Linked DNA regions of Homo sapiens. The protein of the gene in region 1 interacts with the protein of each later gene in a pairwise test. Each region holds a gene or a part of one and is shown in the gene's direction. Other genes may lie near its edges.

Evidence for each region. The genes of interacting proteins can lie anywhere in the genome.
Region 2: the proteins of COL4A5 (region 1) and NEMP1 interact in binary tests that used the Homo sapiens proteins (3 or more experiments, as listed by UniProt).

The regions. Positions count from the first base shown.
Region 1 is NC_000023.11:108,600,324-108,603,853, forward strand, and holds part of COL4A5 (collagen alpha-5(IV) chain isoform 2 precursor), read left to right. Parts: intron 1-1,069; coding exon 1,070-1,162; intron 1,163-1,561; coding exon 1,562-1,666; intron 1,667-2,640; coding exon 2,641-2,738; intron 2,739-3,530. UniProt on the Homo sapiens protein: Type IV collagen is the major structural component of glomerular basement membranes (GBM), forming a 'chicken-wire' meshwork together with laminins, proteoglycans and entactin/nidogen.
Region 2 is NC_000012.12:57,055,143-57,058,497, reverse strand, and holds the end of NEMP1 (nuclear envelope integral membrane protein 1 isoform a precursor), read left to right. Parts: 3' UTR 1-2,855; downstream 2,856-3,355. UniProt on the Homo sapiens protein: Together with EMD, contributes to nuclear envelope stiffness in germ cells. Required for female fertility. Essential for normal erythropoiesis. Required for efficient nuclear envelope opening and enucleation during the late stages of erythroblast maturation.

The DNA.
Region 1 (3,530 bases):
AAAACAACTTTCACATCATCAAAATTATCAATCTTTTCTCTCATGGTTAGTGCTTTTTGTGTCATGTTTAGGAAATCTTTTTTTTCTTGAGCCAATTTCAAGTTCATGTTTCCATTAATAAGAAGTAGATATACTTGAACTTTGCACATGTAAAACCTAAATGTACCTATTAGCCAAAAAAATATTTTCCTTGTTTACTACAGTTTGATTTTTAATGCTCTTTTGGCCTACATTTTAAAAATACTTATATAGGTAACACCCTGTTTTAGGGGTTTCCAGAGAAACAGAACCAATAAAAAGGATGGACAGATGGGTAGATTAGATAGATAGATAGATAGATAGATAGATAGATAGATAGATAGATAGATGAGAGGTGATTTATTATGGGAATTGACTTACATGATTATGGAGGCTGAGAAATCCCACAGTAGGCCACCTGTAAGTTGAAGAACTAGGGAAGCCAGTAGCTTGGCTCAGTCCTAGTCTGAATGCCTGAGAACCTGAGTGGCTGCTTAGTACAAGTCCCAGAGTCTGAAAGCCAGAGAACCTGGAGTTGTGATGTCCAAGGGTAGGAGAGGATGGGTGTACCAGTTTCAAAAGAGAGAGAGCAGAGAATTCACCTTTTTTTCTGCCTTTTTGTTGTATCCGGTCCCTCAGCTGATTGGATGGTACCCACACACATTGGGTGAGGGTGGATCATCCTTATTCGTTTCACTGATTCAAATGTCAGTTTCTTTCGGAAACAGCCTCACAGACATATCTAGAAATAATGCTTTACCAGCGATCTCAGTATCTCTTAATCTAGTCATGTTGAAACCTAAAATTAACCATTATACATCTTGAATCATGGAAGTCCTTAAGGCTGTCATATCCTTTTTCTTTTTGAAATTCTATCCTTCTGTTTTATATATTTCTTGAATATATAGTGGAAGATTGTTTTTCTTGTGAATTTTTGTTAGTTTACATTTTCAAAAGATTGCTGATAATTTTCTTTTTTGTTTTTAATTAAAAAGAGACCTTTAGTTGAGTAAATACTTCTCATTTACCATTGATTTACTCTTGCTTTCAGGTCCTAAAGGGGATCCAGGTCAGACTATAACCCAGCCGGGGAAGCCTGGCTTGCCTGGTAACCCAGGCAGAGATGGTGATGTAGGTCTTCCAGGTATGTGAGGAATTTATTTCAAAGTAACTTCAACACCGATGGCTTTTTTTTTTTTTTTTTTGACAGAGTTTCGCTCTGTCACCCATGCTGGAGTACAGTGGCGTGATGTTGGCTTGCTGCAGCAACCTCCTACTTCTGGGTTCAAGCAGTTCTCCCTGCCTCAGCCTCCCAAGTAGCTGGGATTACAGGCGCCCACCACCACGCCCAGTTAATTTTTGTATTTTTAGTAGAGACGGAGTTTCTCCACGTTGGCCAGGCTGGTCTCGAACTCCTGACCTCAGGTGACCCATTGCCTCAGCCTCCCAAAGTGCTGGGATTACAAGAGTGAGCCACTGCACCTGGCCCTGATGGCTTCTTTCTTTGAACGTTTTCCTTTCAATAACTGCTGTTTCTCCATAGGTGACCCTGGACTTCCAGGGCAACCAGGCTTGCCAGGGATACCTGGTAGCAAAGGAGAACCAGGTATCCCTGGAATTGGGCTTCCTGGACCACCTGGTCCCAAAGGTATGTTGGAATGGGTAGCAGGCAGAGTAGGTTAGAAGTTTAGCATGATGTTATTCTCTCATAAAATTCATTCAACAAATAAAATATATTAATTGCACCTTTTTTCTCTGTGCTATAAAGAATGTAAATAAAAAATCACAGTGTATTTTCACTGTAAGTTCATTATCTTTATCTAAAACAGTCCAGACAAGAAAATATCTACATTTTAGATATGCAAAAGTGATATATAAGCTTAAAAATCACAGGAATTATTGTGTTTTGTGTTCACCATAGTATTTTCAGGGTTTAGAACAGTTCCTAACACATAGTGTGCACTTGATGTTTATTGAGTTAAAGGATTTTTTAAACAGAAAACAGACTTATTGCAGATGTGTAGCCAAGTAATGTTTTATGCTAAATAATATTTTCTTGATTTATTGAAATTTTTAGGGCTTATGCTTCAGTTCTGCTTTATTCCTCACAGAATTTATTCTCACAAATGGCAAGAGCACACAGTGGTCTGAGGACAGTTCTTAAATATATCTTTACTCATTTATACAAAATGCTTTCAAAAGTATCAGGTTTGATTTTATGTGTGTATGTATCTATAATATCTGCAGTTATTTTTAGATCATTTCCAAAATTATATGGTAGGCCCTTTGTCATACTACATCCAGATATAAGCAGAAGAAAAGTTCTTGGGCATTTTTGTGTGGGATTCATTCCTTACAATTTAGTTCTATCTTATTATATAATAGCCCTCATTTTCTTCAGAAAAGCATATGTTCCACATACATTAGCTCTATGTGAAAATAAAAGGAATGTAAGATGATTGAGAGGATTGTAAGGCTTAATCCTAAGTAGTAGAATGTCATTGTGCTTTTGACATCTTACTGTTGTCACTAAGCATGAGTAGAATGTGGGTTTGGGAATTTGAATATCTTTCTTAAAGTGCCTTTCCTTTGGTGGTTAAAAAATGACTTATCATTTTACAGGCTTTCCTGGAATTCCAGGACCTCCAGGAGCACCTGGGACACCTGGAAGAATTGGTCTAGAAGGCCCTCCTGGGCCACCCGGCTTTCCAGGACCAAAGGTCTGGGACATTTTTCTTTATTCCTTCTCATTTTCTTATCTTTCCCACCTTCCTTATTTCTAGCTCTCTATTTTGACTCAGATATCATCCCAAGCCCCAAGTCTTTACTATAAATATACAGATAACTTATTATATTTCCATTAAAAAAATATTTAACCCCAAATCATCTTTAATAGTCCAAGGTCACATTTGGAGCAAAAAAAAAAAAAAAAAAAACCTAATTTCTGTACCTACTTTTGAATGCCCAGTTCTTTGATTAGAGAATACAGGCATACCTTGGAGATATTGCAGGTTTAGTTCCAGACCACCACAATAAAGTGAATATCAAAATAAAGTGAATCACACAACTTTTTTTGTTTCCCACTACATATAAAGGTTATGTTTACACTATACTGTAGTCTTTAAAGTGTGCGATAGCATTAGGTCTAAAAAAAACCATATGCATACCTTAATTAAAAATACTTTATTGCTAAAAAATTTTAGCAATCATCTAAGCTTGCAGCAAGTTATAATCTTTATGCTGGGGGAGGGTTTTGACTCAATATTGATGGCTGCCCACTGATCAGGGTGATGGTTGCTGAAGGTTGGGTGGCTGTGGCCATTTTTTTAAATAAGACAACAATGAAGTTTGCCACATCAATTGACTCTTCCTTTCAGAAAAGATTTCTCTGCAGCATGTGGTGCTGTTTGATGGTATTTTACCCACAGTAGAACCTCTTTCAAAATTGGAGTGAGTCTTCTCAGACCCTGCTGCTGCTTTATCAACTAAGTTTATATAATATTCTAAGTCCT
Region 2 (3,355 bases), on another chromosome or scaffold:
AGTGTCTGTCATTTACTTGGTTCTTTTTCTTTGTGGTCTTCACCCTTATACCCTGGAAAAGTCTGTAATTACCTTAGCCAGGAAGATAGATGGTCATGGCAAGCGCACAGCACCAGACTTACTGGCTCACCAAGATGATGGAAAAAGGCAGATGATTTTTTAAAAAGCCGTAATGACTCCTTTAGACCAGCCATTTAGCGTGGTAATTTTGAAAGGCCTAGCTCCATTGCAGACTTCCAAAGGGTCAGCTCTGAGACTGCCCTCCAGGTGGGCAGTTGATTATTTCCACCAGTGTTTTCCAGAGCCTTAAACTGTCCTAAGTGACAACTACCTCAGTTGGCAGGAAAGAGACATATAGTAGAAAGTGAAAAATGAGCAGTATTTGGGCAGATGCTATGGGTTACAGTTGAAGGGTAAAAGGAACTTTACATTGGGAAACCTTTATACCCTTGTGAATTATGTACATGGTAAAATGTTCTCTCTCTACAAAGAACTATTAAAACTTCTGAAATATACTATTTTTTACCTTATTTATAGAAATTGAGACCTAGCATATTTAAGCATAAGTTTATTTTAAAAAATAATTCAACTCGTGCAAGTGGTCTCAGGATTCTCTGGAGATTTTGGTGCCTCCCCTACTTAGGGAGGTGATAGCTTGCCTATAAGGGTGACTTTTCCTGATCATGTCTTTATTTCAATGAGAAAGCACTGTGAAATTGTGAAAGATTCTCCTCTTTCTCTGTTTAATAAACCCCCATGAAATATAGTTTCCATCTCTAGACCAGTTTTTTTTCCACCGTGTTTAGACTTGAGGTGAATAAAATCAAACTGTTTTTTACTCCCTATCTGGTAGTTGGAGACCTGAGCTGTAGGCAGTGGAGATGGCAATTGGTTCTGCAGCCTGAGAGTTGCTCTCACACAGTGAAGGACGGTGCTGCTCTGGTGTGCTGTGTGTCCTTGCCCTGCCTGCCTGTGGCTCTGCCCAGATGCTTCAGATCCTCTGTGTTCCGGAGATTGCTTGACTTCAACCTTCTTTAGGAGCTGCTCTTGTCTCCCTCTTGGCCACTTAGTTTGCTGGCTCAGTCACTACTTGAAGACCCCATTTAATTTTTCTCTGGCAGTTATAGCTCTTGTGATTTCAGTACAGTCTCATCTCTCAGACCAATCTCATCAAGAAGGATTGAAGGGATAACTATGAGGTAAGCTGGACATTGGAGCCGTGTTTGCTGCCACGTCAGCGTCTTGCTGGGTGAATGTCAAGCCATAAATGGGCTCCAGGGCTCTGGATCTCATCAGCATTGGAAATCTATTGCCTCTCATCAGTCTGACCAAATTATGTAGAGCATTAATGTAGAGACTCCCATTAATGGGAATACAAGAGGCAGCTGGCATAAAACATTTCTTTCACTTTCCTTTCCCACTCAGATTGCTTCAAGAGACCAACAGAACACAGGGATCAAAAACAAGGAAAATTTAGCAACTTCATTACCTTCTAATAAGTAATTCCTGTTAGCCACTGCATCCCACCAAAACTAGTTTATTTTTCCCCTCAAATTCATGATTTTTACGTCTGTTACAAAGGGAATTTTGCTGATAGCTCTTTGGGTCCCACTGTTCCATTTTATGCTAATAGATTCCATTCTAGGGCCCAGCCGTCTCTTGACTGATGGTGTTCCCTTTAACCCTTGGCATGTATAATAGAATTTTGGTGAATGAAAGAACCCAAATAGGCCAGATAGTCCCCCCAGGCCCTGATATCCATAAAAGGCTTGGGAATGCATTATGTAATTGTCCTTAGTCTTTTTGTTGTTTTAGAAAAAAAAAACAAGATGGGCTCAGATGGATGCCTACGTAAAAATGGTTCCTAGCTGTGTACTCATAACTTTTCTTTGAATTGAGTAGTGAAAGGAAGGAGGAGGAAAGGAAATTAAATGTCCTTCTAGTATTCTCTGGACTCAAGTCTGACATATGAGATAATAACCTATATTGAAATGCCAAGAATTGTATCTGAAACAAGAGAACAGTTTGACACATTTATCATGCCTTCATATTACATATTAACTGAAACCAATTAATAAACATATGAAATATCCATTGCACAAGGCAAAGGCACCTAAACCTTTTGTTTCTTTTTCTACATAGCAGAAATTGATTTTTTTTTTATTTTTTTAGGGGAACCTATATAATTATGACCCAGTGATGTCTTTTGGTGACTTAAGCTTATGAATTCAGGTTACAATTGAGTTGATTCTAGATGGTTACTACCTTGAAAAGGATGTTGGTGCCTTATGTGACACGAGCCAGAGCCTGCTGGGAATAAACAAAGCAGATTCATGCCAACACCAACTCGTAGCTTTAGTGGCAGATGGGAGTGGTCACAGACTCCCAAAATGTGGGGCTTTGGATTTCCACACCATCCCACGTGTGTGTCATCTTCCTCTTTCACACTCTTGATGATAATTTGAAAATGGTGAAATCACCTCTGAATTTGCCTATAGCATGAGCACATTCTTATGACAACATAACAAATAGTTCATAATGTGAATATTAGAAACTGTTACAGCCTGCAGTTACCATAATTTTCCATGTTTGTGGAATTGATATTGAAATAGCAGGGCTAAGGAATTACTGGCAAGTTTTAGCCTGTGGGTAATACCTTAGGGTTATTTAAATATTTGTAATTTTATTTAAATGTTCATGAATGTTTGAAAGGAACAAAATTATCAGGGATGGCTCTTTGCCATGGGTCTTATTTTCACCCTCTTTTCTGTAAGAAAAAAGAACAATGTCTTAATGTATTTTTAAAGTTTTTGGTATAGTTTCTAATTCCAATTTTAATAAAAGTTTTATAGATATATTGTGGTCTTTCTTAATGAACATAATATTTTCTTGTTTGGATTTCTTGTTTTCAGGTAATCAGCAATTTACTCCTCAGTTTCATCTTTCTAATGAGATGGTTTTGCATGCCACTGATTTCCCTTTTTTTCTTAGCCACCCCTTCCTGTCCCGAGTCTGTACTGGTCTACTTTCATCCTTGGACTGGATGATTTCCCAGGATGCAAAATCTCTAAGGGGTATTCTTGCAGGAGCAGCAGGTTGTACTACCATGCTGTCTCATAGAAAAGCAAAATACAGGTTATTCTTGGCCCAAGGAACTACTCTGATTATATTTTAGTTCTTTTTTTTTTTTTATGGCATAAAGTATCTCTTTTGTTTGTCCATTGGGATGGGGAGAAGACCTATGGCTCCAGCTATGGGATCCCTACCAAGAGCTCTGTATAGGGTGGAAGAGAGAGTAGGGCTGTAGTGAGCCTTATGTGTATTGAATAAAAACTTAAATTATGTCTAGGCCCAG